5 separate regions of the Homo sapiens genome follow, and all the other regions are linked to region 5. The links come from fine-mapping of genetic effects on plasma protein levels. A gene starts in region 5. Each other region holds a variant in brackets. All regions are shown on one strand. Distances are from middle to middle.

What was found. PIP is the posterior inclusion probability: the model's chance that the variant is causal. Protein levels are from antibody-based Olink assays in UK Biobank. Linkage for the fine-mapping came from a reference panel and not from the study's own genotypes, which makes the PIPs less certain.
Region 1: its variant is fine-mapped to the plasma level of the CBLIF protein (UK Biobank, PIP above 0.99).
Region 2: its variant is fine-mapped to the plasma level of the CBLIF protein (UK Biobank, PIP above 0.99).
Region 3: its variant is fine-mapped to the plasma level of the CBLIF protein (UK Biobank, PIP above 0.99).
Region 4: its variant is fine-mapped to the plasma level of the CBLIF protein (UK Biobank, PIP above 0.99).

The regions. Positions count from the first base shown.
Region 1 is chr11:59,037,229-59,043,905 of GRCh38, reverse strand. All of the region lies in intron 3 of GLYATL1-AS1 (GLYATL1 antisense RNA 1), which reads left to right. It also overlaps the pseudogene GLYATL1P4. Among named protein-coding and RNA genes, the nearest start is that of GLYATL1-AS1, 18 kb to the left of the region's middle. The variant C/A (reference allele first, on the strand shown) is at 3,896.
Region 2 is chr11:59,602,629-59,607,628 of GRCh38, reverse strand. The region is part of intron 3 of OSBP (oxysterol binding protein); the gene reads left to right. Among named protein-coding and RNA genes, the nearest start is that of MIR3162, 10 kb to the right of the region's middle. The variant A/G (reference allele first, on the strand shown) is at 2,974.
Region 3 is chr11:61,143,174-61,149,850 of GRCh38, reverse strand. The region is part of intron 1 of VPS37C (VPS37C subunit of ESCRT-I); the gene reads left to right. Among named protein-coding and RNA genes, the nearest start is that of VPS37C, 15 kb to the left of the region's middle. The variant G/C (reference allele first, on the strand shown) is at 3,190.
Region 4 is chr11:61,173,058-61,179,734 of GRCh38, reverse strand. LOC124902678 (a long non-coding RNA gene) reads right to left here and starts at 4,896. Exons shown (of 4, transcript XR_007062691.1): 1 at 3,568-4,896. The variant C/T (reference allele first, on the strand shown) is at 3,486.
Region 5 is chr11:59,841,694-59,848,370 of GRCh38, reverse strand. It overlaps CBLIF (cobalamin binding intrinsic factor), which reads left to right and starts at 2,872. Exons shown (of 9, transcript NM_005142.3): 1 at 2,872-2,996; 2 at 4,316-4,492; 3 at 5,230-5,343; 4 at 5,788-5,928. The coding sequence starts at 2,918.

The DNA of each region.
Region 1 (6,677 bases), 800 kb after region 5:
TGGCCTCCATTCAGCCCCTGCAGGTGACCCCTGCCACCTCAAAGGGCCCTTAATCTGTGAGTGTCAGCCTTGTCCTTTTCCTCCCCTTCCCCCTTGAACCCCTTTCCCAAATTAGTCTTATGCTTACGGGAAGAGTGTTAACATGTGGCATTCATGCAAGCTGCTCATTAACGAAGGAGTGTTTTAAAATACTCACATTTCCTTTCACCCTATGAAAGCAGCCATGGTGTCTGAATTGGACAGTTCCTCAGGCCCTTTGGACCTGCCTGGCTCCACCAGTCCCTGTCTGTGTGCCTACCTGTTTTTGAGGTCGGATAATAACCATCTGATACCCGGGCCAGGAGTCCACCAACACCTCCATGTTGAAGGGGTTCCCGTGATTGATGTGAAACAGAGAGCCATACACCTGAAGGAGGGATGAAAGGGAATAGGAGAGGTTGAGATCCCCAGAGATGGGGGTCTGTATGTGAAGAGGAAGAGAAAAATGGAAGTCAGGAGACAGCACTGGGACCAAGTTGGTGATAGTGTGATGAGCAGCATCTCCAGGACCATACTGATGGACGTGAAGTCACCAGCAAACAGGCAGAACTCCCAGGGAGGTGTCCTTGTGATACCACAGAGCTACTGTGCAGTAGCTGGGCACTTGACAATGCACTTAGCACTTATATTGTATGGATTCATTCAGTGTCCACAACAACTTTAATAGGTGGCTACTAATATTATTCCCATTTTATTAATGAAAAGACCAAAGATAAAGGCATAGAAAGCTAAAGACACAGGCACAATGATATCTGACTAAAAAATGGCAGCCTTGCAATGCATATTTATTGAATCTGGCCCCAAACCGATGTTCGTAGCCACCATTCTTCACCACCTCTCCAAATGAGTGATAAAATCTGCAGAGTCGGCCTAGTTGCCTGTTGCCGAGGAGAAGCAGCAGCTCTTAACATGCCTCCTTTGTCCCCAACCCCATCCTGTTTCCCAGCTCCAACCCTCTGCACAAAGTCAGGAAGGACGAGATTCTTGGGCCTGTTATTTTCTCATCCTCAACACCCCTACTCCCATACCCCAACCTCCCACTGTTCCTTCACCTTCAGGGACTCAGGAATGCTCCTTGCTAAAGATTTGAATAGGGCCAGCAGCTGCTCAGAATTATTCAATAGAATCATTTTGTGGGATGCTTCAGTCCTCGAGCCCTTCAAGAAAAAACTCTGAAGAGAAGTGAAGGGAAAATGTTAAAGGACCAGATGAAATTAAAATGCACTTTACACATCTCCATTCAAGTAACACTCATGATGTAGGTACTGTTAGTATCGTCTTCATTTTGAATACGCCAAAGCTTAGAGAGACTAAATAAATTTCTCAAGTTCTTACAGGGATAAATGACAGAGTCCTATCCAAAACCCATGCATTTCCTCTCTGGTGGAATGAATTAAAAGTGAATATTAAGAGTTCTGTGAGCCTCCCACATGCCTGTAGCAGAACACTCCACCACCACCATCATAATGTTTCTTTTATTTTGGTCATCAGATGCCTGAAGAGTCTTCTTTCTTCTGGAATAGGAAATATCTAAGAACAGTTGTGACTGGAAACCTCAGAGCAGGAGTTGGCAAAGATTTTCTTTAGTTTCTTAGGGCCAAATATTTCAGATCTATAACCATTTTGAAATTTTTCCCAGTTTCATTACAAAAATAAGAAAAAAGCATAGAAAATTTGGAAACATATCTGTAAATTTCCTTTGAAATAACACTTGGAATTCTTTTTTTTTTTTTTTTTTTTTTTTTTTTTGAGACGGAGTCTCGCTCTGTCGCCCAGGTCGGACTGCGGACTGCAGTGGCGCAATCTCGGCTCACTGCAAGCTCCGCTTCCCGGGTTCACGCCATTCTCCTGCCTCAGCCTCCCGAGTAGCTGGGACTACAGGCGCCCGCCACCGCGCCCGGCTAATTTTTTGTATTTTTAGTAGAGACGGGGTTTCACCTTGTTAGCCAGGATGGTCTCGATCTCCTGACCTCATGATCCACCCGCCTCGGCCTCCCAAAGTGCTGGGATTACAGGCGTGAGCCACCGCGCCCGGCCTAACACTTGGAATTCTTACAAATGTGCCAAAGAGTATAACAGTTGACATTCTATAGTGCCAAACCGGTTCTTAGCCAAAAGGGACTTTACTGAGAGCCCTCATTTTTAAATGTAGTTCAATGCATTGTTTTTCATTTGGAATGTTCCACTCTAAGTTATCTTTAGTAAGATTTTGCCATTTGTGTAAGACTTCTCTGCCTTCCAGTCCTAATGTATAAGCCAGAAAGAACTCAGTTTTTCAGAAATTAAGGATTCCAGTTTTACATAAAATACTGACTTTACTCTCAGGTTCTTTTGATTAACTTAACCAATGAATTTTCCTATCTAGGTACACAAGAAAAATGAAACAAATGGGTAGAACACAAAAATCCCTGTGAATTTCCCAAAGCCGAATTTTATGACTGCTGCGACATTACTGCTTACTACCACTTCCTTTATGACCCAGTCAGCTGTTAGTGGCCTCTACTGTTAGTGGCCTCTAAGTGGATCCAAGCCAGTTAATTCCCAGATCAAATTCATTCCTAGACCCAGTCCATTTTCTGTTGCAACTCCAAAACCAGTTTGGATCACAAATTTGCACAAGGAAACTCAGAGAGCTCAAAACACAAATGTGTGAAGCTCCAAAATGCAAGAGGGAGCTTACCTTTGATCCTCAGCTGCTCTGAGAGATCAGTGGACACAAGTGGATCCCGCAGGTACCTTCTGTGTTTACTCAGTGCTCCTGGGGATACTAGAAGCTCCACTTCAGATTCTGCTTCTGACACAATCTGATAAAATAAAAACTTCAGCTGACTTAAATTTAAAGGAGATTAGTTGAGCAATGAACAATTCATCGATCCAGCAGCCTTCAGAATCACAGCAGATTCACAGAGTTTCCAGGGGTGCCTTGTGGTCAAAACAAATTTATAGGGAAAAAAAGTTAAAGTGACATCCAGGAACCGGAAATGAGTTACAGAAACAGTGAGATTTCTGTCACCTGGGCGTTTGCCTTATTTAAACACAGTTTGAGCATTCAGCAGTCTATGAGTGGTGATGTAAGGCTGCTGGGACTGGCCAGCATTCAAATATTGTTACAGGTGCAGACTCCTAAATTAGGTTTTCAATTTTGTCTATTAAGCTAGGTTACTCTACACCCACAAGGGCTCAAATGAAGCACAGAGTCCTTCTCAGACCATATTTAGTTTGCTTTAACACTCTGTAGCAAAATTCATTGAAAGGATTGTCTACAAATGCTATTTCCAATCCTCCCCCTAATCTTATCTAACTGGGTTTTTGCTGCTACCATTTTACTGAAACATTTTTTAAATCCATCAGTGATCTCTATGTTATTAAATCCAGTGGTCAATTATTGCTTCTGTTCTTAATAGATCATTCTTTAAGACTTTCTTCACTTGGTTTCCGAGAAAACACACTCTCTTCTTTTCCTTTAACTTCACTGGTTATTTCTCAGTCTCCTCTGTGGACCCTTCTTTTCTCCCCAACTTCTTAATTTTGCATCACTTTAGAGTTCAATCATTGGCCTTCATTTGTATCCACACTTACTCCCTAGTAATCACATCTGTTCCCATGGCTTTAAAATCAATCTGCTTGCCAATGACTAATACATTTATATTACTATTAAAACTCTTTTCCAAACTCAAGACATATGTATCCAATAGCCTGTTTGATATCTCTTGGATTCCACCCAATAGCCATCTCAAACTCATTATGTCTCAGATCAAACTCCTTATCCACCCTCTCCACCCAGCCTACTTCACCTGTAGTCTTTCTCAATTAAGTTGATGGCAACTCCACCTTTTCACCTATTCAAATAAAAACT[C/A]TTGGAATTATTCTTAAGTATCTTTTCCCCTCCCACTTTACATCCAATCCATTATGACATTCTGCTCATTCTGGTTGGGAGAAAAGTCTTCATGGCCTCTCACATTTCTGCATGTCTTAGGAGCAGAGACATTGACAGCCTTTGCTCCTATCCTTTCAAGGATGTTTGTAAAGAGTACAGCTTGGAAGCTGGAGATACTGCTTTCTTCTGAAGCAGAAGGCAGTTTTGCTGCAACACACATCTATTGAATTTGTGACATTAATCTGCCTTCCTGTATTTCCTCTGTAGGACTTGTGGAGCAAAGATGACTGACACAAACATATAAATCATTCTGCCTGTTGAAGGCATATAAAATCCTGCCTTTACCTGGAAGCTTGTGTCATCTGCCAGCATTTCTGCATCTGTGCCCCTGTAAACTTTTAGATGCTTCAGAGTTCTTGGCAGTCTTTTCTGGATGGAGAATGTCTTTAGTCTTTTCTCTATGTAAAACCAGAACACTCCTTTTAAAACAAAAGCCACATTTTGTTATTCGTTGTGCAAGTCCTGCTGTCACTCCCAATCTCATTCAGAGAAAGATATATAAAAGTCTTATAACAGCCCTCTAAGTTCTCCATGACTTAGAATCCAGTCACCTCCCTGACATCCCTCCAGTCATGTCCCTGACTTCAATCTCTTTGCCTTCTCTGCTTCAGGCACTTTGCTGTCCTTTTTCTTCTGCTTGCATTCTGTTTTCTCATTATACCTATAGAAAACCTTATTACCCTCTTTAAATCTTCACCTTAAAGCCACTTGCTCAATGAGGCCTCCTCTGACCATCGTATTAACAATTACAACTGTTCCCCTAGTTTCTCTGCAATGCTCCTGTGCCCCATTGTCATTCTCTGCCTCTTATCTTTTTCTTTTTTGACAGGGTCTCACTCTGTCACCCAGGCTGGAGTGCAGTGGCTGGATCATGAGTCACTGCAACCTTGACCTTTCAGGCTCAAGCATCCTCTCACCTCAGTCTCCTGACTAGCTGCAGGCATGAATCAATGTGCCTGGCTAATTGTCTTATTTTTATGTTATAGAGATGGTGGGGCGGGGGGGGGTCTTCATTTTTCAGACTGGTCTCAAACTACTGGTTATAGTTTTATAACTTTCTGTGCCACACTCTGATGCCCCAAAATATCTAGCAGAGACAAACATAAAACCCCGAAAAAATGTATGCTGACAATTCTGAAGACATTTCTATTTTTATCTTACAATAATTTTAATGCTAGCTTCTTAAAAATTTACTTAAGTAACGTGAATGTAAAAAATACTTTGGACTTATTTACTTAATCTAGGAGTGTTCTTTTATGTATAAGCCAATTTGGTAGTCACAACATATAATGTAATACATGTGCATACACATAAACACATCTAGATGTATATACACACAAAGATCCAAAAGCTTTTACCTTGGAACTCTAGCCATGAGATAGTAATACAGTCTCAACTGTCTGCAAACATGTCCACATGGCTGAACTTTGTTAGCCTTGATAGGTAATCCAGGGAAGGCTGTGAAACAAATTTTAAATAAAATGAGTTTCTGTGGCAGTTTGATTTTTAAAGGCCAAAACTCCCTATACTCCCAAAACACTGGGGTCAAAAACGGCACCGCATGAGATCATCACATATTAACCTGGCCCGACCCTGCTTAAAACAGCAGCACAAAATCCCACTTTCCCATTCAACAGCAAACTCCAGATTCCAAACTATACTGGAGCCAAACAGTGTCACAAAAGAGTACCAGTTTATCAAATTCGAATTTCCCATGACTGTATCAGACACATGCAAACAATTACTAAAACACAATCCAACTGCTGCAGCATCAAACAAGCCCCAAAAGTCTACGATGTGAAAGAGTTGTGGTGCTTCCTCTCTCCATTGGTTGGGCTCAATCGACCTGAAATAAAAATTCCTTCAGAATTTCTCAGATGGAGAGGAGCAGATCCCACTGTCTGGTTCCCACAAATGACACTCACTTGCCTGGATACACACACAATGACAAACAAGCTCCTAAGAGTGTCCGTACTGAAATAGTCAGGGTACTTCCCTCTCTTCATCAATTGGGCTTGTTCAACCTGCAAGTGGAAATTCCTTTAAAAATTTCCCAAACTGTGAGGAGGAGATCTTTCTGTCTGGGCCCACAGAGGAGAGTCACCTATCTGGATGCAAATATCAAATTTCAAAGGCAGTTCTCCCAAGGCAATCAGGAACATGGTTGGGGCCAGCTGTGGCTGGCCCTAGAGAGAGGGTACTCATCTCTAGCCAAAATTGGGTAAGCAGCTGCTTAGGAGGACTTTGAGATTCCCCGCCCATGGTAGCTGAGCCAAAGTGTTCCTGGTTGGGGAATCAAAATCTGTTAGTGAAACACCAGGGGTGTGGTCTAGCTCCAGCTGCTCACTGCACAGAAAACCAATTCATATCAACAATTCTTGCCAAGGGAGAAGGCTGAATCAGATGCTGTAGGAGAGGAGATGGTAGTTCAGTGTCAAATCCATCTCCCTGACCAGCTAAAATTATGAGTTTACATAGCAGGGAGGAAAAGTAACCATGTGTAGAAAAACAGGAACTCAGGAGACCTAAGGAAGCAATCATAATGTATGAGGGGTCTGGTGTGCCATCATCTGGATGGAATCATCTGGTGAATTTCAGTTCTTTTATACTTTTTGAGGGACCTAGGGGTCCTTTACCAAGGATGAAACTCATAGAAAACAAATAAAAGTTTCAAGCTTTAAGACCAGAATGGTCAATTTCT
Region 2 (5,000 bases), 240 kb after region 5:
TCATAAGTGAGAAGAGTACTCTGTGAGAAATTATGTAGGGTAGATTTTTTTTTTCCTAATTAAATGGGATGAAATTACCTCTCTAGTGCCAGACTTTCCCATGACCATGGGAAAGTATCGTTTTTCTCATTTAACCCCTTTCTTACTTAATAGATAGTTGGATAACCTTTATTTTAACATCATTTTTCTGATATGTTTAACACTATCTTCAGTGCTGTGATTCACACAAAGTAAAAAGACAAATTACATTCTCCACTTAGGGACTGCAGGAAGATTATCTCCTAGGACTGACCAGTCAGCCAGTCAGGGTGCTTGTGTTTCTGATGTCTGGTCGTGTATTCCTGGAGACTGTGTGCCTGGTTTTCCAGTCCCCTTGTGATCAGGAAAACCTCATTAAGTCATACAGTCAATTAAATAGTAAATACGTATACTTTTTAAATAAAACAACTCGGCACAATGGTCTCCTGAGAGTGAATGCCACCTTTTATCCAAATCAGAGGAACACCCCAATCCATAATTTTTTTTTTACCTTGATGTAAAAATTTTGCTAAGTAAAGCATCCCTTTATAAACCTAAACCTTTAGTTTCAATTTTTCTCTTGAAAATGTACTCATCTTTGTTCCTTGGGGAAATTCTTCCCTAAGTTCTAAGTGTCCAGAGTTTGTGTTAAAGGGAATGATCTCTTGGAAGTCAGAGATGAGTTCTGTTTTCATTCTTTACTCTCTTGCTGCACTGCCTGTGCCCTTTTCCTAGCCAGTTATTGCTTAAAATACATTTTTTATCCCTGTGTTGTTTCCTTTGTACCTTTTAGTATGATACTAGCAAGGCCTTAAGTATAATACACGTGTTAAAAATTAACATGCTAGAGCATCACAGCTCTAAACGGGCAAAGTTATATCAAAGGAAGAATATGTTTCACTCAATTACTTCTTTAAAAATTAATTTAATTTTTGATTCAAGGGGCACGTGTGCAGGTTTGTTACATAGGTATATTGCGTGATGCTGAGGTTTGGGCTTCTAATTATCCCATTGCCCAAGTAGTGAACGTAGTACGCAACAGGTAGTTTTTCAACCTTTGGTTCTCTTCCTCCCCACTTTTGGAATCCCTAGTGTTTATTGTTTCTGTCTTTGTGTTGGTGTGTACCCAATGTTTAGCTCCCACTTATAAGTGAGAAGATGTGTTTTTTTTTTTTTTCTGTGTCTGCATTAATTCAGTTAGGATATTGGCCTCCAGTTGCATTCATGTTGCTGCAAAGGACATGATATTGTTTTTTTTTTATGGCCGTTTCAGTTTCTTGACTGCTTAGGATAGAGCTTTTCTAACTGTCAAAGTGAATCTGATCAGAGAATTAAATTTGACACTTTTAGTATATTCATCTGCCATCTATTGAGCATGAGCTGTGTTCCACGAACTGTGCTAGTGGATATTGCTGAGGGCAGATATGGTCCGTGTCCTCAGGAAGATCACTATTTAGTGAGGGATGGAGAATTAAAGGGATCATTATGGACTATGTTGAGTGACTTGATAGAAATGAGCACAGGCTGCTATGGTATAGCACTTTGGAAGTATTTGGCTCAGACTAGGAAATTTCTCTAATTTCCTCAACTAAATTCTGAAGGAGCAGTGAGAGTCTTCCTATGAAGAAAGGCAAGCTAGAGCTTGGGGCCTGGAGTCCAACTGCCTTCATGACCTATCTCTGTAACTTGAGGCAACCTGCATCCCGTCCAACTGCCTCTATGACCTATGTGTATAACTTGGGGCAACCTGCATCCTCTGTGACATCAATTCCTTATCTGTAAATGGTAATGATACTAGCAGATACTTCAAAGGCTTGTTGAAAGGCTTTTGTCAGATAATTGATGTGAAGTGCTCGGCAAAGTGCCTGACATATGATTGTCTCTGGCAAATTTTAATTACAGTCAGTATTACTAAAAGGGAATGAGGCCAGGCATGGTGCCTCACACCTGTAATCCCAGCACTTTGTGAGGCCGAGTCGAGTGGATCACCTGAGGTCAGGAGTTCGAGACCAGCCTGGCCAACATGGTGAAACCCCCATCTCTACTAAAAGAAATAAAAAAATTAGCCAGACATGGTGACTGAGGCATGAGAATCACTTGAACCCAGGAGGCGGAGGTTGCAGTGAGCTGAGATCGTAGCACTGCACTCTGTAGCCTGGGTGACAGAGCGAGACTCTGTCTCAAAAATAAATAAATAAATAAATGAAATAAAAGGGAATGAGGGAGAAGCTTTGATCCAGGTAGTGGTATGGGATATTCAGATCTATCCCTTTCCCCAAAGTCTGGGAACTGCTGGTAATTGACTGTTAGTCGAGCAAGGAAGCAGCTAGCATGAGGCTTGGGAGGAGTTAATTGTGGGGGAGAGAAAGGGCTGCAGATCATACCAACTAAGCTTGGTAGTAGTGGATTAGAAGATGAGACCAATTTGGATGCAGTCATAATTTTTTTCTTTTTTTTTGAGACAGAGTCTCGCTTTGTCACCCAGGCTGGAGTGCAATAGTGTGATCTCAGCTCACTGTAACCTCCGCCTCCCGGGTTCAAGCAGTTCTTCTGCCTCAGCCTCCCAAGTAGCTGGGACTACAGGCGCACACTACCACACCCGACTAATTTTTTGTGTTTTTAGTGGAGATGGGGTTTCACCATCTTGGCCAGGCTGGTCTTGAACTCCTGACCTTGTGATCCACCTGCCTAGGCCTCCCAAAGTGCTGGGATTACAGACATGAGCCACTGTGCTCGGCCTTTTTCTTTTTTTTTTAGAGACAGAGTATTGCTCTCTCACCCAGGCTGGAGTGCAGTGGCACCATCATAGCTCACTGCAGCCTTGAGCACCCAGGCTCAAGTGAGTCTCACTCCTCAGCCTTCTGAGTAGCTGGGACTACAGGCAGAGCTGCTACACTCAACTTTTTTTTTGAGACAGAGTCTTGCTTTGTCACCCAGGCTGGAGTGCAGTGCACA[A/G]TCTTGGTTCACTGTAACCTCCGCCTCTTGGGTTCAAGCAATTCTTCTACCTCATCCTCCCAAGTAGCTGGGACTACAGGCGCACATCACCATGCCTGGCTAATTTTTGTATTTTTAGTAGAGATGGGGTTTCACTATGTTGGCCAGGCTGGTCTCGGACACCTAACCTCAGGTGATTTGCCTGCCTCGGCCTCCCAAAGTGCTGGGATTAAAGGTGTAAGCCACTATACCCAGCCTCTTTTTTAAATTTTTATATCTTTTTTTAATTTTTATATAGAGATGGGGTCTTGTATGTTGTCCAGGCTGATCTTAAACTCCTGGTCTCAGGTACTCCTTCTGTCTTGGCCTTCCAAAGTGTTTTACATACGTGAGCTACCATGCCCAGCTTATAATTATAATAACTAACACCTTATTGAATGTTTATTGTGAGCCTAATGTGGTTCTAAGTGCTTACATGTAAAACAACGACTCTTTGAGGTAGTTACTCTATTGTTACTATTTGTTTATGGAAAAGGAAGATGAGGCACAGAGAGGTTAAATAACTTACCCTTATTTGTACAGCTAGATAGTGGGATGGATCTGTGATTTGAGCCCTACCGGTCCAACTCCAGAGTATGCACTCTGTACTGTTTCTGAGTAAGGAGGATGGAAAGACATGTACAGATTTTTAAAATATTAAAGAAGAATCAATAGGACTTGATAACTGGCTGTGAGGAAGGAAGCAAAAGTAAGAGAAGGATGCCCCTTAATTTTCTGGCTTGGACAACTGGGAGGGCCCTGAAAGTTGGATTGGGGAACATCAAAGGGAAAAGCAGAGACAACATAGGAAACTGATGAGGCTGGGTGTGGTGCCTCACACCTGTAGTCCCAGGTGTGGATCACTTGAGCCTGGGAGTTGAAAGATTAGCCTGAGCAACATGGCAGAATCCCACCTCTATATTAACTACAAAAATTAGCTGGGCATTGTGGCTCATGCCTGTAGTCCCAGCTACTTGGGAGGCTCAGGTAGGAGGATCACTTGAACTTGTGAGGTTGAGGCTGCAGTGAGCCATGATTGTGCCACTGCACTCCAACCTGGGTGACAGAGCAAGAACATGTCTCAAAAAAAAAAAAAAAAAAAAAAAAACTGAAGGTGATGAGTTCACTTTGGGATGCATTAATTTTGAAGTTACTTTGAGCCGTTGAATAGGGAGTTGGATATTCTATTCTGAATCTCAGTAAGTGCTGGGCTAGAATTAGTGATTTAGTAGCCATTAGCCTATAGGCAGTGGTTGAAACCATGGGAGTAAATATCCTGTTTACCTTTTAGCTTCTCTGTAACAGGGAATAGATTTTTAAGCTTACGTTGCTTGCCTCCTTCCTTTATTTATTTATTAAGCAAACTTTATCAGATCCCTATTATGTACAGAGCAACTAAATTAGGAGCTGGAGATCTATATATGAATAAACTCAAAAATGTGTTTTTAAATTGCATGTGATCCATCTGGAGAGATAGAAAATCAGTCACGATACTGCTGTGCATGTGTAAAATAGAAGTTTGTGCAAAATGCAGTGGAAATGTAGAGAAGAGACTGGCTGCTTATGAGACTGGTGGGGAGATGTCACAAAGTAGCATTTGCCATAGATCTTAAAGAAAGATTTGCCCTTTCTTAGAAACAGGGGATAGGGATGGACATTCTAGGTAGAGTGAATAGCATATGCTGAGGTATGTAGGCCTGAAAGAAATCTGTGTCCACGACTGGGCACAGTGGCTCATGCCTGTAATCCCAACACTTTGGGAGGCTGAGATGGGTAGATCACTTGAGTCCGTGAGTTCGATACTAGTCTGGGTAACAAGGCAAAATTCCATCTCTACAAAATACAAAAATTAGTCGGCCATGGTGGTACATAACTGTAGTCCCAACTGCTCAGCGGGGCTAAGGTAGGAGGATCACCTGAGCCCGACGAGGTTGAGGCTGCAGTGAGCTGTGATCTGCACTCTACTCCAGACTGTGCCAGAAATCTGTGTGCAAGAAATGGTGAGCAGT
Region 3 (6,677 bases), 1.3 Mb before region 5:
TCTCACTTGACGGCCCTGCCTCTGGACAAAGGGGGGTCAGATGGAGTTTTTCAGTGGATTGAGGAGCATTCAGTTGTTATGTAAATATTTATGTAAAGATGACAGTTTCCTTCATGAAGCAATTTCCCTATGAGAGATTGTACATTCCCCCTATGTATGCTTATGTTTGAGGACTCTTGTCTAGATTGGTTTGGAGCTTGTTTGGAGCCACATCCTTTGCTTCCGTCCAGGATCAGCTCTTTCAGAGTCCTCTGGTTCTAGACCTAGCTGGCCGCCTGGCACAGTTGACAGGCAGCATTTCCTAACAATAAGTTGTGAGGGAGTGGGAATTAATACTGCCTGGTGCCAGACCTGCTGCTTGGTGGTCTTGTTTAATTCTCATTTAATCCTTACAACCCCATGATGTTGGTAGTATTAGCCCCATTTTACAAATGAGAAACAGAGAAAGGCTGAATAATGTGCCCATGGTGATATAGCTAGTGAAAGGTCAGGATGGGATTGAAATCTAGGAGTTTTTATCTCCAAAGCCTCTTCACTTAGTCTTTTTTGTTTGTTTGTTTACTTTGAGATGGAGTCTCGCTCTGTCGCCGAGGCTGGGATGCAGTGGCGCGATCTCGGCTCACTGCAAGCTCCGTCTCCTGGGTTCACGCCATTCTCCTGCCTCAGCCTCCTGAGTAGCTGGGACTACAGGCGTGTGCCACCACGCCCAGCTAACTTTTTTGTATTTTTAGTAGATAAATATGGGGTTTCACCATGTTAGCTAGGATGGTCTTGATCTCCTGACCTCGTGGTCCGCCCGCCTTGGCCTCCCAAAGTGCTGGGATTACAGGCGTGAGCCACCGCGCCTGGCCCCTCTTCACGTAGTCTTAACTATTTATCCCTGGTGGGTGGGAGGAATCTCCAACCCCAACCCAGCCCCAACCCCAGCAATTCCTTAGAAAGGATGAAAGCCATCTGGGGGCAGTGGCACAGGCCTGGACTCCCAGCTACTTGGGAAGTGAGGTGGATTGCTTGAGCCCAAGAGTTTGAGGCTGTGAAGTGAGCTACTTTTGCGTCCCTGCACTCTAGCCTGGGCAACAGAGTGACAGAGCGAGTCCTTCATCTCTTAAAAGAAAAAAAAGAAAACTAAAAACGCAAAAAAATGAAAACTAAAAACGCCTTCCTCTCCATGGTTTACACTGTAACTTTTCCACTTGTGGGGAAAGTCAGTTCAGTGCTGCTTTGGATCAGGTGAGAAGAACTTGATGATTTGATTTTTTTTTTTTTTTTTTTAACCTCCTGTGGGAAGTCAGGAAACAAAAGAGTCTGGTACTTGGACGCACAGCTGGAATCATTCCGGGAAAAGAAAACCAGATTAGGCCTGCAAATATTTCCTCATTCAGCAGCATGATTAGGAAGGTTTCTAAGGCAACAGCAGGTGTTTCTGACATACGGGGTAAGATGGGGCCAGTTCCTTTTTAACATGTGCAGGTTGGACTTTGCAAGTTGCCCTGGTAACAGCTTCTTCTGGTACCATAGGTGGATGTGGGGAATTTGTAAGAAACCAAGGGACGTCACAGCTCTTCTTGCAGTGTGATTTCGGGCTAGAGGTCACTGGCAAGTAAGTGTTGTCTGGTAAGGCGAGGGGAGTGCTGGGAGCCGTGCTTCAGCTCCCAGGTGCTGGAGCTGGTGGAGGCTGGAATCCTCCTGCACGATCTCAGCAGCCATTTCACTTGACACAAGATTGCAGCCCAGGGGTTGCAGGAGTAACGCCAGGAGGTGGAATAATTTATATTTGTTCAGTGCTCAGGAGTTTGCAAAGCTCTTTTTGGGCTGTTCGCTTATCTGAGCCACACAGCAACCCCTAAGGTGGGATTATCATCATGGTGCCCCATTAAGGAAACCAAGGTTAAAGGACTTGATTAAGGTCACACAGTTAAAGAGCTGTGGAGCCAAAGCACAAACTCAAGGCATCTGTTTTCAAATTCCATGTCTGCACAGGACAGAATTCTGTCCAGACACACAATCTGGGGGGAGAGTTGGCATGAACCACTTAGCGGCAAGGGGTGAGGGGCAGTGCAAGTTGTCTCTAGGGCTGGCATGCCACACTCTCATCTCAGTGCCCTCACTGTCTAGAAAATGCTGCATTTTGCAGTCCAGCTTTTTTTTTTTTGTTGAAGGTTATCCTTGGAAAGGATCTCTGATCAGTGGAAACGATTTGTTTTTGAGCTGATTAGCTTGTTGAGGAAAACCATCATTGCATGACTTTTTTTTTCCCCGATAAAAACAGATCTGGAAGGCTGCCCCAAGTTTGAACCCTCCCCAGAGTTCCCCTTCCACCCCGGTCTGCTAGGAAGTTCTGTGGCCTCCTTGCTGGGGACGTGGCGCTGCCTTTGGCGTAAATCCACTGGCCCTGTGCTATCTTTTACCAGATCGTGTACCCTGTGCTCAAGACCTGTGGGATCGATTTAGTCAAGATATAAAGTAATGGAAAGAAGTTGAGACCAGAGATCAAAGCAACAGGTGCCAGTTGGCTGGTCCGGCTGCACCCAGAAATGCTGCTTCCTTGGTTCTGATAGCAAAGCTCCAGCGAGTTCAGCCTGTGCCCCCACCCCAACCTCCTTTCAGTGCATTGTGGCAAATGGTGGGGCTCCAGGATTCTTGTGGGATGTCTTTATCACCTCTCCCCTCTGCCCCACCCCCTTTTCTGTGATCTGTACCCTTGCACTTGTCTCCCATAGAGGATATGGCATCAATTCAGGTCACACCTGAATTGTGGGTTTTGATGGCCCACCCAGTTTCTCACAACTTTGAGTTGAAATTTAAAAATGGGAAGATGCACCTAGATGTAGATTTCTGGCTTCCCTTTGGAGAGCTGATGGGTCTGGGAAAGCTGGCAAGGCTGCAGGAGGGGCCTAGAATCACCAGGGCCGCTTTCCAGCCATACACACTCTGCCTGTCGCTTGGCCTCCTACTACCAGCCTGGCCTTTGTAGGCCACTGGGGTTGGGACCTCTGGTGGGGGTGAAAACTGCAGAGAGACAACTTTAAAAAGCAAAAGGAAAAAACAAAAGCAAGTGTTCTTCCTTCTCAGGGGCTGGTAGTGAGGAACCAGGGGCACTGTTCCTCTTCTCTGTGCAAGGAACGCAGACTGGCTCACGCATAGCTTTCTCACCTTGTTCCCTCCCAGCCAGATCACTTTCGAGTTGAT[G/C]ATATCACCCCAGAAAAGGTGTTTTCTGCTGTACCTGTGAACCTGTGCAGCCGCCTGCCCCGCAGCCCTCCCTCCTCCTCCCCTCCCAGCCCCTTGGATCTGCAGTGGCTCCCGCCTGGGCTGTGCTGCTCCTGGCATGGCATGCGCAGGCCCCTGTGGCCAAGCTTTCCAGGCCCACAGAGCGGCCCATCTCTCCTCCTCACTCTGTTGGTCTCTGCCTCTGTTACGCTGCTCTCATCTGTATTCATGATGAATTATTGTGAGTATTTTTGACTTTTTAAAATGAAACTGAGTTACTTGAGAGTTAGGATCAGCTCTTACCTGTGAATGCCATGTCTGGCTCATAGTAAGAACCCCCCAAATATTTGCTCACATCCTGCTGCCCCCATTTATCCTTCCTCCTTTGATGTGGGTCTCACAGTATTCTTGGCAAATGCAATTGCTTCATAAGTATTGATTCATTAAGGGAGTGGAGAAATGCGAGCAGGCGGGGGTAAGGGGAAGAATGCCCGTTCTCTGTCCCCACGTCTTCAGTGACTTGTTCTCTCCTTCCTGTCTCCATCACTTTTTGGGCAAACGTTATTGTGAGCTATCTGACAGCCAGTCTGCTGGGCTTGGGTTGACGAAGATGAGTGAGACATTCTCCTTGTCTTCAAGGGGTCGATTTATTCTCACCCTCAACAACTCCCTACTCGTGCGCAGCAAACCCTGGGGGTCACTAGAGCAGTGCTGCATCCTCCCGGGCATCTTGGCAGGGGGAGGGGCTCTGGGCCAGGGCTCTGGTACTGAGGGGCCCAGGTAGTTGGACTCGTCACACCCTCCAGAAACAAAAGCCCATGGACTCTGGGTCCCCGAAGGACATCTCAGGAACCCCCTAGTTCTCTACTTTGAGACATATGCGGTGGCTGGGGTCACTCTGAGAAGTGTCACTTTGGACTTGTCCCTTGCGTTGGGTGATGGAGTCAGACACCACCAGCAGTGGATGACCAAGCTTCAAGGGCACCTTCTTAGCAGCTCTGTGGGCTGTGGGCAAAAGAGTTTCCTGTTCTCCCTTCTCCATATTAGGGACCCAGGGAAGTGCTTGCTGCTTCCAGCCTCGCTGATGGCTCTGAGGAGCAGGTGATGGCTGTGGCATTGGTGAGAGAAAGGGACCTGTCATTTCCAGGGGTGGGTGATGCTGTGGTAAACCCCACAAGGTGGCACTTGCCTGCCCAGCCTGAGATGCTGTATGAGGGCGGTGAGGTGGGCGTCCCCAACCCGGAGGCAGGGACAGGGAGGGATGGGATAATTGGCGTGCTTGCGTGGGCTCCTAATCTCTGGATCTCGGGCCTTATGGCTAAACACCTTATCCTCACTGCACCCCTCTGATGGGCCTGCCGAGCAGGTGGGGCAAAGATGTTGGTGAGATGAAAACACCCGCACAGTGGGGCAGTGTCCTTCCTGCTTCTTTCTGGGATTCATTTTATCTCTGAAATAGGAGGCACTTAAGCTCATGCTGGCTTTACATACTAGAGAGGTTATGTAAATTAACGGGAGAGTTTACAGAGGGCTTTGATCTCTTTATTTATTGTTTCAATTAAAGACCAGTGTGATAGTACAGAGGGCTTTGATTTCAGAAGAAAAGAGCCATGTAAGGGTTTGTTTGCCCATTTTACAGATAAGGAAAGTTGAGTCCCAAAACGAACATCTGGCCTCCAGCTATTTGGCAAAGTTGGGAGTAAGGTCCTGAGCACTCCTCATTTGGGACATGTTTGTCTGGCACATGCCAGCAGTGCCTTCTGAAATGGGAGCCCCATGAGCAGAGGAGGTAGCAGCTTGGTGGAGGCCTCCGGTCTCCTTCCCAGACTCAGCCTCCGTGTAGGGGGGACTCCTGGCCCGTTAGAAGCTTGACATCGTGGCAGGCACTGTTTTCACATGAATCTCCCCTGCCGAGCTGGCCAGAGCTTGGGCACTCGTCTCATGAGCTGTGGCCGTGACGTTCCGCCTCTTGGTCTTGACCGTATGTGACGCTGCCTCCCTCTGTGATGTGCATTGTCACGTCACTGCAAATCTGAAGCCTAAATCCTGGCATGAAGACCCCTGTCTTGTGCACCTGGGTGTCACCTGTCCCGCCGTGCCCACACAGAGCCAAGCCTTAGGAAGTGCCCTTGGGGTCCTGGGGGGGCTCACCCTATAGAAAAAACACTGCCTGCGTTCTCCTCCTGCTTCTGCGGTGACTGGGTGACAAGGCCCTTCCTCCCCTGGGGTCTTTGCTTTTCCTCTGTCAGATGGGGTTGCCTCCCCCTGAGTTCCCCCAGAGTGTTGGGGAAAGGGGAAAATAAGATAATAGATGCCAAACTAGTCAGACCCAGGTAGCCTAGTTAAAATGAAAACTTCATTAAAAATTAAGAATTGGCTGGGTGCGGTGGCTCACGCCTGTAATCCCAGCACTTTGGGAGGCCGAGGTGGGTGGATCACCAGGTCAGGAGATCGAGACCATTCTGGCTAGCACGGTGAAACCCCGTGTCTACTAAAAATATAAAAAAATTAGCCGGGCGTGGTGGTGGCTCCTGTAGTCCCAGCTACTCGGGAGGCTGAGGCAGGAGAATGGCGTCAACCCAGGAAGGCGGAGCTTGCAGTGAGCCAAGATCGCGCCATTGCACCCCAGCCTGGGCGACAGAGCCAGACTCCGTCTCAAAAAAAAAAAAAAAAAATTAAGAATCGGCCGGGCGTGGTCGCTCACGCCTGTAATCCCAGCACTTTGGGAGGCTGAGGCAGGTGGATCATTTGAGGTCAGGAGTTCGAGACCAGCCTGACCAACATGGAGAAACTCTGTCTCTACTAAAAATACAAAATTAGCTGGGCATGGTGTTGCACGCCTGTAATCCCAGCTACTGGGGAGGCTGAGGCCGGAGAATCACTTGAACCCGGGAAGCGGAGGTTGCCGTGAGCCAAGATTGTGCCATTGCACTCCAGCCTGGGCAACAAGAGCGAAACTCCATCTCAGAAAAAAAAAAGAATTGGCTGGGCACAATGGCTCACACCTGTAATCCCAGCACTGAGGCAGGTGGATCACTTGAGGTCAGGAGTTCAAGATCAGCTTGGCCAACATGGTGAAACCCCCATCTCTACTAAAAATACAAAAATTAGCCAGGCTAGTGTCAGGCACCTGTAATCCTCAAGAGGCTGAGGCAGGAGAATTGCTTGAACCCGGGAGGTAGAGGTTACAGTGAGCTGAGATTGTGCCACTGCACTCCAGCCTGGGCGACAGCACAAGACTCCATCTAAAAAAAAAAAAAAAAAAAAAAAAAAAAAAAAAATTAAGAATCCTGGAGATTCTAGAGTTCTAGGTCTGGAGGAGGATTTTAGGACTCAGGGACTCCATGAGGCACATGTTGAGAATCCCTGGACCTGAAAAGGCATTTTCATTCCAAACTGCATGACCTTGGGCAAGTAACGTCACCTCTCCCAGCCTCCCCTGTGAGGTGGGGGTGATATTGACGCCCACT
Region 4 (6,677 bases), 1.3 Mb before region 5:
AAGCAAAAATTAACAAATGGGATGTAAATCAAGCCAAAAGGTTGTGCACAGCAAAGAAAACAATCAACAAGGTGAAGAGACAACCCACAGAATGGGAGAAAATATTTACAAACTATTCATCCAACAAGGGAATAACAACCAGGAATATATAAAGAACTCAAACAACTTAATAGCAAAGAAACAAATAATTTGATTAAAAATGGGCAAAAGATCTGAATAGACACTTCTCAAAGGAGGATACAAATGGACAACGGGTGGAGAAAAAAAGACTCAACATTCGTAATGATCAGGGAAATGCCAATTAAAATCACAGTGAGTTATCATCTCACCCCAGTTAAATAGCTGTCATCAAAAAGACAGAAGATAACAGATGCTGGTGAGGAGACCAAGAAAGAGGAATGCTCATTCACTGTTGGTGGAAATTTAAATGAGTACAGCCTCTGTGGAAAACAGAATGCAGATTTTTCAAAAAACTAAAGATAGAACTATCATATGATCCAGCAATCCCACTGCTGGGTATATATATCCGAAAGAAAGGAAATTAGTCGGCCGGGCACGGTGGCTCACGCCTGTAATCCCAGCACTTTGGAGTCTGAGGTGGGTGGATCACCTGAGGTTGGGAGTTCGAGATCAGCCTGACCAACATGGAGAAACCCCGTCTCTACTAATAATACAAAAAAAATTAGCCGGGCATGGTGGCACATGCCTGTAGTCCCAGCTGCTCAGGAGGCCGAGGCAGGAGAATTGCTTGAACCCGGGAGGTGGAGGTTGCCATGAGCCGAGATCGTGCCATTGCACTCCAGCCTAGGCAACAAGAGCAAAACTCCGTCTAAAAAAAAAAAAAAAAGAAAAAGAAAGAAAGGAAATTAGTCTATTGACGAGATATCTGCACTCCTGTTTTTATCGCAGCACTATTCGCAGCAGCCAAGCTAGATAGACTAATTACCCAGATTTGATCATTACGCACTGCATACTTGAAATCAAAATATCCCGTGTACCCCATAAATGTGTACAACTATTATGTATTCACATATACATTTTTAAGACTGGCTTTTTTCACTTAGTGATATGCACTTAAGTTTCCTCCTTTTCATGGCTTGGTAGCTCATTTCTTTCTTTTTTTAATTTTTATTTTCGTTTTTATTTTTTGAGACAGGGTCTCATTCTGTTGCCCAGGCTGGAGTGCAATGGTACCATCTTGGCTCACTGCAACCTCTGCCTCCGAGGCTCAAGCCATCCTCCCACTTCAGTCTCCCAAGTAGCTGGGACTACAGGTACACACCAGTATGCCTAGCTAATTTTTCTCTATATATATTTTTTGTAGAGATGGGGTTTCGCCATGTTGCCCAGGCTGGTCTTGAACTCCTGAGCTTGATGGATCCACCTGACTCGGTCTCCCAAAGTGCTGGGATTACAGGTGTGAGCCACCGTGCCCAGCCGATTGCTCATTTCTTTTTAGTGCTTAATAATAATCCATTGTCTGGATGGAGTACAGTTTATCTTCTTATTCACTCACTGAAGGGCATCTTAGTTTCTTCCAAGCTTTGACAATTATAAAGCTGCTATAAATAGTCATATGCAGGTTTTCGTGTGGGTATAAATTTTCAACTCCTCTGAGTAAATCCAAGCAGTGTGACTGATGGGTAATATGGCAAGAGTATGTTTAATTTTATAACAAACTGCCAAGCTGTCTTTTAAAGTGTCTGTGCCATTTTGCATTCCTACCAGCAACGAATGAGAGTTTCTGTTGCTCCACATTCTCACCAGGATTTGGTGTTCTCAGTGTTCTGGATTTTGGCCATTCTAACAGGCCCATACACTTACTTTATAAATAAATTAATGGCATATAAAGGGGGACTGCTATCTACTAAAAGTCTTTTTTTTTTTTTGAGATGGAGTTTCGCTCTTGTTGCCCAGGCTGGAGTGCAGTGGTGCAATCTTGGCTCACTGCAACCTCCGCCTCCTGGGTTCAAGCGATGCTCCTGCCTCAGCCTCCCAAGTAGCTGGGATTACTGGTGCCTGCCACCACGCCTGGCTAATTTTTGTATTTTCAGTAGAGATGGGTTTTACCATGTTGGCCAGGCTGGTCTCAAACTCCTGACCTTGTGGTCTGCCCGCCTCAGCCTCCCAAAGTGCTTGGATTACAGGTGTAAGCCACCGCGCCCAGCCCATTAAAAGTCTTAAGAAACAGCCACCAAATGCAACACATGCGGATAACCTCAAGATCTTGATCCTGGATCTGAATATATCAACTGTTAAAAGGCATTTTTGAGAGAATCAAATAAATTTGAACATGGACTGGTTATTAGGTGATATTAAAATTGGTAATTAAAAGAAAAGTTGGTAGTTTTGTTTGGAATAAGAGAGCATTGCCGCTATAAATATATATATTTGAATATATATATTAATTACAGCTGTGTATATATATATATATATATAATATGACCCTTATCTCCTAGAAATGTACAATAAAGTATTTACAGTGAAATGGTAAGCTGTATGCCTTAAAATATTACAGCAAATATAAATATATAAAGAATAAAATTTTTAAAAAGTAAGAGTGTCGCCAGGTGCGGTAGCTCATGCCTATAATCCCAGCACTTTGGGAGGCTGAGGCAGGTAGATTGCTTGAGGCCAGGAGTTTGAGACCAGCCTGGCCAACATGGTGAAACTCTGTCTCTACGAAAAATACAAAAATTATCTGGGTGTGTTGATGCATGCCTGTAATCCCAGCTACTCAGGAGGCTGAGGCATGAGAATCGCTTGAACCTGGGAGGCGGAGGCTGCAGTGAGCCGGGATCACGCCAGTCCACTCCAGCCTGGGCAACAAAGTGAGACAAAGAAAAAAAAAAGGGGGGAGTGTGTATATAAAACAAGGATTTGCAGAAACAGTGTAATTCTTGATGCTGAGTGATGGAATATGAGGTCCATGACACTATTCATTTTTACTTTTATGTTTGAACCTTTTTTGTAATAAGTTGAAAACATTTCCATTTTGAAGTTTCTGTCTTTAGTGGTATCCCAAGGGTCCCAAGCAAGGCCGACCTGGGTGGGCCCCACACTGGCTGAGTTGCTCCTGAGCCTCCCCTGCCCACGGCTCCGGCCCTCGTCCTGCTGTCTCCCACCACTACCCCTCGAGGTTGTCTGATCATCAGCTTGAGACTTTGAGGAGCCGTATCAGGGCCTGGAAGTGGAAAGGATGAGAACATTTTTAGAAACAACAAAATGGGGGTCTCCCTCCCTGGCTTTGTCTGCTTTAGTATCATCTGTAGGGAAGGGGCAGGGGCCCGGATAGGGAGGGAGCCAAAGACTGAAGCAGTGGAGGTGTTTTGAAGGGAAGGGAGGAGGGATTCATAACTAAATAACAGAGAGGAGGGCAGCTTGCACAGGATGCAAGACAGACTGGGATGGGAGAGAAGCCCAGGGGCGTGAACAGAGGGTCTGCAGAGCGGAACAAGATATTGGAAAAGGGCCTCCTGTGGCAG[C/T]GGGACATATGCAGTGAGTCAAGTTTAAACAGAGAACAGCCAGCTGTGGGGAGGAGAGAGCTAGGATTTCTGTGGTACCTACCAGCAGTCCAGTCGCACTTGGATCTTCTGGTCAAATGGTTCTGGAGGCTGCGTCCTTCCTGCTGGAATTCCTGCTCCAGACATGGAGGTGGTAGAGATGCTTACTGCTGGTGAGCCATGGGAACGAGGCCATATTCAGTGGCCCTTTTATTACTCTGTGGCCATTGGCATCATCTCAAGCTGGACAGCAAAATAGCAGGTCACCCAAAACATCTCTCCTTTTAAAATATTGTCCAATATATCTAACCTTTCTTGGCACGTCTTGGACCTAGAATTTTTTTTATTGTTATTCATTCCTTTAGTAAAGGTAATTCATCAGCCTGACTCGAGTTTCTGTTGAAGAATCCATGAGCTTCCCAGTTGGTAACTTCTGCCTTATGGCTGTCAGATCTCATCCCACAGAATCCAAGTGCTGGAATGTTCCATTGGGCAGGAGTGCAAAGGTCCTTTAGCTCCTGCATGTCAGTGACGTGGCACCTGGTCTACCATGCTCCATTCTGAGTCCAAGGCAGATATTGCCAGCGAACCACAGCACCCCCTACCACTGGATGTGGCCCCAGAATCCCGAGCAACATACAATCCCTTCAGCCACGTGTTCTAGCAACCAGCGTCGGCACTGGATTGGGAATGATTGCTATTCTTGGACAAGTCCAGTCTGTTATCCCGGAGATGGGGAAACTGAGAGCTGGGGTGTATAATTTACAGAAGGGATGCAAGGTAGGTTAGTGAAGTGCTGGGACCCGGGGCTTCTGGCTCTCAGGTAATCCTCTTCCCACCTGGGCATAGGCTTGGGGAGCTCTGAGAAGGGAAAGGTGAGAGAATGCTCAATTGCAGTCCCTGCTGCCAGCTTCCGTAGGTCACTTTCGGGGGTCTGCAGGTGCCAGAGCTGAAGTTCCTTCCTCTTTCTCCTTAAGTCCGGCTCCAGTTCTGTTGCCAGACCTGCCATCTTATGGCAGCAGGAAAGCAATATTGGAAGCTGCCAGACACAGTGGGGGCAGCCCCGGCTGGAGTGGCACCAGGAAGCAGGAGGCAGTGGTGCCGGTTAGTGCTTGACTTGTGCCCAGCTTGGCAGCCCCACAGCTTCCCCTCCTTGTTCATAACACACTGACCCTTGTAAGTTGGTGTGACACTGGCCTGTATTTAGAGTAAGGAACATCTTCTGGTCAGACTTCGACAATTGAAACCCAATGTTCTATTTCATCTTTAGGGGATTCTTGGCTGAGTTGGGAGGGTCAGACAAGGGTGCATTCAAGGACTTGTTGCCTCTCTGAGGCTCAAGAAAGACCTTGGAACTTTGAAGGCCCTGATGAGGGATGAACAACTGATGCTTTCTGGGGGCTTCACTGTATGGAGACAAAGAATGGAGCAAGGAAAACCCACCGGGAAAGCCTGGGCATTACTTGGGTCTCAACTGATTTCAAGTTGAATTCTAGCCACCAGACATCATGGTCAGGTGCTGATGCCCCATGGCCATCTTCCAAGAAGGAATGGAAGAACCAGACTCTGCCAAAGGAGCAGCCACCTTCGGGGGGCCCCTGTGATAGCACTGGGGGAGATTAGTCAAGAGCGTTTACTTTCCTCTTGGCCCTGTGGGTGTGCTGGGCGTTCCAGCAGGAGGACAAGCAAACCCCAGGGTTCCTGGTGGTGGCAGTGGCACCCACTGTGCCTCTTGGAGCTGGAGCTGGTGATGATAACCAGCTTATCTACATGGCCCTGGGCCCAGAGCAAACTCAGCTCTATTGACACCTCTTATTTTCCCGCCTCAGTTTGCACATAGCCCCAGGGCTTGCCATTCTGGGAAAGGGGTTGATAATTCATTGCTGGTAACTTGCTCCGAGTCAACAAATCAAGTGTGTGATGAGGTCATGGTGTGTAACTTGTGGCCTCGATGGCCTGGTTGACGATGGTGTGTTCAGGTGTGGACGGAAGACTGGAGATGGAAAAGTAGCCTTTTATTGAACTTGGTTACCTTGGGCCTTTGCAATTCCTGTTCTCCCTGTCCAGAAGGTTCTTCTCCCAGCTTTCTGCGTGGATGGCTATTCAGCCATCATCTCAATGTTCCCTCCTCAGTGATGCCTTCCATGGCCACTCTGGTCTCCCAGCTGTAGAGCCTGACTTGGAGGAGCCCTGGAGACACCTATTGAACGCCTTTTCCCATGTGCTCTTTGTGGGCGCCCTGTGAAGCTGATAATGTCTCCAATTTATAGATGAGGAAACTGAGGCTTAGAGGAGCTAAGTAACTTCCTCAAGGATTTATGGCAAGTAAGTGGTAGAGTCAAGATTTGAACTAGGTCTGTCTGACTACAAATTCTAGGCTCTTGGCCACTCTGCAGCTCATTAGTACTGGGCTTGGGAGGTCAGGAAATGAGGCAGAACAAAAGGAGGAGAGGACGGGTGGGAGGAGGAAGGGATAATTGAGGACAGGTCTCATCTATTAGGAAATATTCATTCTTTCAGTGAACACTTGAGGGTGCTCGAAGCCAAGTTCATAAATTGCTCGCTGTTTATGAATAGCCTTGCAGACAGGGCCATGGAGGACATTGTACAATTTGTGCCCAGAACACAGGTGTCAGGCCATGGGGGAAGAAGACCTGAAGTCAGGTCATGATTCACTGCTGAGCCATGCACCTGGGCAGCTGCAGCCACCTGGAGGAGGCCAGCTTTTTCTGAATCTAACGAAGGCTCCAAATGGGCTAGCAGTGGCCCTGAAGTCCAGGAAACAAAACATTTAGAAAGGTAATGTGGCAGCACTGCAATAGAGGCATGCCCTGGGCATCCTGCAAAGAGGATGCCCAATGCTGCCTTAGGTGGAAAGTTAGGAAGTCTCCCTAGTGGAGGTGGCAACTGAGCCGAGTCTCAGTGGATGAGAGAACTTTGCCAAATGGGCATGGGGAGGAGGGAACACCAAAGAGGGCAGCACTGGCATGATAATAGACCTAAAGGATTGTAAGTCACCTGGTAAGGTTAGATGGTAAGGGTCATGGGCCCAGTTGATGCATGATATTAGTCAGCATGGGCAGTATATGCTGCAGTAACAAGCAACACCCAATTTCACAATAAGAAGGTTTCTCTTTTGCTTTCCCTATATGTCCATTACAGGTCATCTAGGGC
Region 5 (6,677 bases):
ATGAGTTCATGTCCTTTGTAGGCACATGGATGAAATTGGAAATCATCATTCTCAGTAAACTATTGCAAGGACAAAAAACCAAACACCGCATGTTCTCACTCATAGATGGGAATTGAACAATGAGAACACATGGACACAGGAAGGGGAACATCACACTCTGGGGACTGTTGTGGGGTGGGGGGATGGGGGAGGGATAGCATTAGGAGATATACCTAATGCTAAATGATGAGTTAACGGGTGCAGCACGCCAGCATGGCACATGTATACACATGTAACTAACCTGCACATTGTGCACATGTACCCTAAAACTTAAAGTATAATTAAAAAAAAAAGAAAAAAAAGGAACAGGGACAATCTTAAAAAAAAAAAAAAGGCTAAGGGAAAACAACAGTTTAAGAAAATAAGAAGCCCTCCCAGCTATTTCCGTAGGGCTCCCCTAGTAACAGAGCTTGTGAAGAAGAATCCATTTCCTTGCCTTTTCCAGCTTCTGGAGGCTGCCCACGTTGCATGGCTCATGGCCCCTGTCCACCTACAAAGCCAGCAATTGCATCATTCTGACTTCTGCCTCTAACATCACATTTGCTTTTCTGATTCTAACGCTCTTGCCTTCCTCTGCCACTAACAAGGACCTCTGTGATGACATTGAGCCCACCCAGATGATCCAAGCTAACCTTCCTCTCTTAAAGTCAGCTCATTAGCCACCTTAATTCCATGTGCATCTTTAATTCTTCCTGGCCATATAACCCACGTAACATGTTCACAAGTTCCAGGGATTAGGGCATGGGCATTTGGCGGTGTGTGGGCAGTGCCATTATTCTGCCTCCTACTCCTTCACACAGCATGCAAGGCTGTCCACCAAGTAGATGCCAACTGTCTTTCCAGCCTCATCTTCCACCATGTACCATGTATTGGATATATATTGCTGCATAACAAGTGACTTTAAAACTTAGGGGCCTAAGACAACATTTATTATCCCACAGTTTCTGTGGGTCAGGAGTCCAGGGAGGGTTTACATGGGTCCTCTGGCTTAGGAGGGTCTCTCCCAGGGCTGCAATCAAGATGTCAGCTGGGGCTGCCTTCATCTCAAAGCTCACTGGGGAAGGGTTCTTTTCTCCCTGAATATCGGCTGGAGGCTACTCTCAGGGGCCATATGTGGGCTTCTCCATAAGGCAGCTCACACTTAGCAGCTGCCTTCATGAGAGCAGGAAGGGCAAGAGAGAGAAGGCAAGCAAGAGGGAAATCGGTCTTTTGCAACCACATCCCATCACCTTTGCTGCATTATATTCATTATAATAGAATGTGGCCCCAGGCCAGCCCACACTCTAGGGAAGAGGACTACACAAGGCATGAATACCGGGAGGTGAAAACACAGGGCCATGTTAGAAGTTGTCCAGCACACCCCAGTATGTACCCTGTGCTCTCATCTCACAAAACTCACCCATGTTTCCCAAGGGGGAAAAAATGCTTTATTACCCATGTCTTACATTTGCTCATTAATTCACTCATTCAAAAAGTATTTTATTTCTACTGTGAGCTAGGTAGTGTTGTAAGGGCTAAGGATAGAGCAGTGAGCCAAAGAGACAAAGCCCCTCCCTCGTGGAGCAGACATTCTAGTAGGGAGATAAACAAACGATAAACAACCACACACTTAGTGCGACAGAGGGCAATGAGTTATAGCAGGCGAGGGGCATGAGGGGTGTCAGTGGAGGTGAGGATGTAGGATCTTATGTAGGGTGGCCTGGGAAGGCGTCTCTAAAAGCTTACCTCTGAGCAGAGACATGAAGGATGTGAGGAAGCCACCATGAGGCTATTTAAAAGAAGAGGGTCCTGGGCTGAGGGGGACATCATGTGCAAAGGTAGCTGATGTGTTCAAGGGGCACAAGAAGTTCTGTGTGATGGGAGCGGTGTGAGCAAAGGGGAAAACGCCTGGAGCTGAGGTCAGAAAGGAAACCAGGAGCCAGATCTTCTAAGGTCTTATAGGTCATGAAAAGGGCTTTGACTTTTATGCTAAGATGGGCGCCACTGGAGAATATCCCCTTAAAATGAGCTACTTTACATGCAGGAAAAAAACAAACAAAACTCCTTTCTTTATAATTTCAACATACCATTTTCAGTTCTCCCTTATAAAGAAGTATAATTTGCATTATAATGTAGCTACACATCTGAAATATGTATTCTTAATGGATCTCACATTTTCTAATTACTTACTTTAAAAGATAATATCTGAAAGCTTTGGGTGTTTGAGATGGCTTTTATCTCCAGATAAGGAAAGAGAAATCAAACAAAACCATTTCTGGGAAACCGAGGTCCATTTCTTGCCTAAAGTCAAACAACTTCAAAGAGTCTAGGCTAGAATCCAGGTCCAGGTAGACATCATTAATTTCACAAAGCCAGATGTCACCTGGCAGATCCCTGCCTGAGAGCCTAAAAGGACATGTTGTAAAGCAGGTGTCTAGGATCATAAAATGAGCTGATGCCTATGAATGGCCTAAATCCCAGTGAAGTAGTTACTAAAAAGCAGCCTGGTAACTGATTGGATACAATAAGGGCTAGAAGAGGTCTTGTTGATACTAGCACATTATCCAAACTTCCTGATGTCTGACCCAGGCCTTTGGTAAAGGACATTTTCTCAACATTGCCTTCACTGCATACCCAGCCCCAGGTTTCTCATATGACTGTGCAACCTAGAAGTCACCTTCAGACACCTTGGAGGGTCTATAGTCGGTAAACTTAGATAAGCAAATGAAAATTTACTTACTTGTATCAGGAAAGGAGAGGTCAGCACAGGGGCAGTTAGGAGAGGCTGGGTTGGGGACAGATTATTTAACAAAGGGAAGCACATATAAGAGAAGGTAAAGAAATATTCCACTTGCAAATCGCGGTACCTGTGGATGAGAGACATAGACGAGAGAGTGAGATGGCCTGGTTTGCCCTCTACCTCCTGAGCCTTCTCTGGGCTACAGCTGGGACTAGTACCCAGACCCAGAGTTCATGCTGTGAGTATGATGTTTTTCCAAGGAGGTCAGGGAAGCAGTTGCCCTGGGGAAGGGGCTGTGACCTCTGACACTGAGTGGTTGAAAATAGCAATCACTATAGGAATTCCAAAATGGGTAAGTCTGAGTGTGATTGTGTGCTGTTCATCCTTCCTGACTTAATAGCATAAGTTCTTTGAGAGACAAGTCTATATGTTTTTTATTAAGAGAGATGGGGCCAGGTGCAGTGGCTCACACCTGTAATCCCAGCACTTTGGGAGACTGAAGCAGGAGGATTGCTTGAGCCCAAGAGTTCAAGACCAGCCTGGGCAACATGGTGAGACTCCATCTCTACAAAAAAAATAAATAAATAAAAATAAAAAATTAGCTGGGCGCAGTGGCATGCACCTGTGGTCCCAGCTACTCAGAAAGCTGAGGTAGGAGAATCGCTTGAGCCCAGGAGGTCGAGGCTGCAGTGAGCTATAATCACACCACTGCACTCCAGCCTAGATGACACAGCAGCACCCTGTCTCAAAAAATCAATAAATAAAAATAATAGAGATGGAAGTACTACTGCAGGAATAATGGTTGATGGTACAAAGACAGACACTCAGTGGCTATTGTGACCAGACACCACTACATACTAGTGAGAGATTTTGGTACTCACTGAGGATAAATTATATCCCAAATCTTTAATACTCTTCATGAAAGAGTAAGGAAAAAAATGAATGCAAGGAAATCAGTGATTTCCAGGAAAGTGATAGAAACTATGAGAAATGTCATGAGCCATATTGCTTGAAGTTACTAAATTTAAAAATCACTTTCTTAAGGATATGGATTATTTGAGAAGATGTAGAAACTAATTGTCCTCAAAAGTAAAATCTCACCATTTTCTCCATTTCTCTTTAGTGACTTAGGACACTAATGCTAATCAAGTGTTCTCCTAAAAGGCATCAAAGATGGCCAGGCGAGGTGGCTCACGCCTGTAATCCCAGCACTTTGGGAGGCCAAGAAGGGTGGATTACCTGAGGTCAGAAATTCGAGACTACCCTGGCCAACATGGTGAAACCCCATCTCTACTAAAAATACAAAAATTAGCCTGGCGTGGTGGTGCACACCTGTAATCCCAGCTACTCAGGAAGCTGAGGCAGGAGAATCACTTGAACCTGGGAGGCAGAGTTTGCAGTGAGCCGAGATCGTGCCATTGCACTCTAGCCTGGGCAACAAGAGTAACACTGTCTCAAAAAAAAAAGAAAGAAAGAAAAAGCATCAAAGACACGGGGATAATGTTTTTGAGAAGGAATGAGGGTTAGAAGGTGAGTAAATGGCTTTCCTCTTCTCAGCCGTTCCCTCAGCACAGGAGCCCTTGGTCAATGGAATACAAGTACTCATGGAGAACTCGGTGACTTCATCAGCCTACCCAAACCCCAGCATCCTGATTGCCATGAATCTGGCCGGAGCCTACAACTTGAAGGCCCAGAAGCTCCTGACTTACCAGCTCATGTCCAGCGACAACAACGGTGAGACATCTGAGCCGCTCGCACTCTCCCTGAATCTCACACATCACATACCACCTCCAGATTCCAACTCAGCGTCCTTCCCACCCCAATGCTGCCTCTGACTGTAAATAAACTACCCAAACACCTTTCCTTACATACCTGGAAGGTACCTGGAAAGAAACATGTGTGAAGTCAGAGCATTCATGGAGGAGGTCAGTAAAGCAGGGAGAGCTCTGGACTAGACGTCGAAAGAGCAGCCTTCTGGTTCTGGCTCTGCCACGTCATAACTCTGGGATCTGAGACAAGTCACTGGATACTGCTCAGCCTCACCTTGCAGATGATTGTAGTAACAATAACCCTACTACTACTAATAGCAATGATAATAATAATAAAATCTCTGTTCTGCCTATCTCCCAGGAGCTGCCTGCAGGCTCAAGTTAGATAAAGTTTAAATTATTTTGCAACTGTAAATTTCTGTATATAAATCTATATGAGTATTTTGCTGCTTTTCTAATCAAATACCAGGGATTCTCAAATACCAAATACTAGAGTCATCAAGTTACACAGAGGCCACTAGATTAAATATTCCCTTACGTATTCTTCCATATTTTTTTCTTTGGAAAGACAGATCAAAGAACTGCTCATATTATTAAAAAGTCAAAATGCTCTAGATAAAAAGCAGAGAACTCATCACTGGCTCCTGGAGAGCTGTCCCCTGAGGATGTCTCTGTCTAACCGTTGTGTTCTCTTCTCTGCAGATCTAACCATTGGGCAGCTCGGCCTCACCATCATGGCCCTCACCTCCTCCTGCCGAGACCCTGGGGATAAAGTATCCATTCTACAAAGACAAATGGAGAACTGGGCACCTTCCAGTAAGACCTGACTGGAAGGGAGAAAAGAGTCAGGCATATGGTTTTACCTAAGAATTTTAAACCCAGAAAGGAAAAGGGTGGGGGTGGAGAGAAAGGCAAGTTAGGGAAGAGACAATGTATCCTTCACTCTGGTCCTTCTGATAATCCAGACCAGAAAGATTCATTTCCAATCCAAAATGAACTAGAAAAGGTCATGATCCCAAGGACACAAGCTTGTCCAGCCATCACCTGTCTAAAGACACAGAGTCATCCCTTTTATTCTTTGCAGATGCCTGATGACATTCTTTTGAAAAACACTGAAGTTGCTCTTTGCCTATGCTGTGTCTCTCTTTGGGGGCAGGTTTTCTAGCAATTTCCTTTTCAAAGGCTTGGCTTTTCCTTCTTTGCAAATGTCCTCATCGTGGTGACTGTGAGTCTGATGAAGGTTCTCTATCCCCTTCGGAGGCCCCAACGCTGAAGCATCAGCCTTCTATGGGCCCAGTCTAGCGATCTTGGCACTGTGCCAGAAGAACTCTGAGGCGACCTTGCCGATAGCCGTCCGCTTTGCCAAGACCCTGCTGGCCAACTCCTCTCCCTTCAATGTAGGTGAGTAGGTCACCACTACCCCGAGCTGGGAACATCAGAGGCATCGTGAACTGAATGGTGGAGCTGGCAGGGAAGTGACAAAGGAGAGCGTCCCATGGAGGAGGAGCTAAGGATGTGAACGTGCCTGTGGATGGGAGATATTTACCAGATGTTTGTTGGGCAGGTGAATTGAGGAGTAAGTGAAGGAAGAGGGGGTAGTATTATGTAGAAACAAGGACAATTGATAATACTTGATATGTCTGGCAGCTACAGAATCTCCGCTGGGAACAATAGTAATGCCATTCAAGTCAGAAGTTCTTCCCAAATTAAATATGAATGTCTTGCTTCAGTTCTCCTCTGCATCCTCTCTTTAATCACTACTGATGCTCCCACACTCCATTCTTTTCGATGCTTCTCCTCATTACATCCAAATATCCTCTCTCCATTAAACAGCTACTCTCGGAACCCTAACTCGTGATATTTCCCTTCATGGCAACTCGGGGACCACCTTGCGTCTTTGTTCTGCAAGCATATGGCTGCTTGTGAATAGAAGCTTTTCCCTCTACAACATCATGTCCTCCTTCTGTCCCCTTCTATGGATAATGATCCTTCTCTGTGGGGGCCACTGTCACAGCCCGCATTCATGATCACCTTTTCTCCTCTGCCAACTCTCTAAGCAATAGTATTATCTCAGGTTTTCACTCCCTTATGCATGCCCCATCAGCAACCTCTCTTGTTTCAGTTTCTGTCAGACAAACAGGTGAACCACT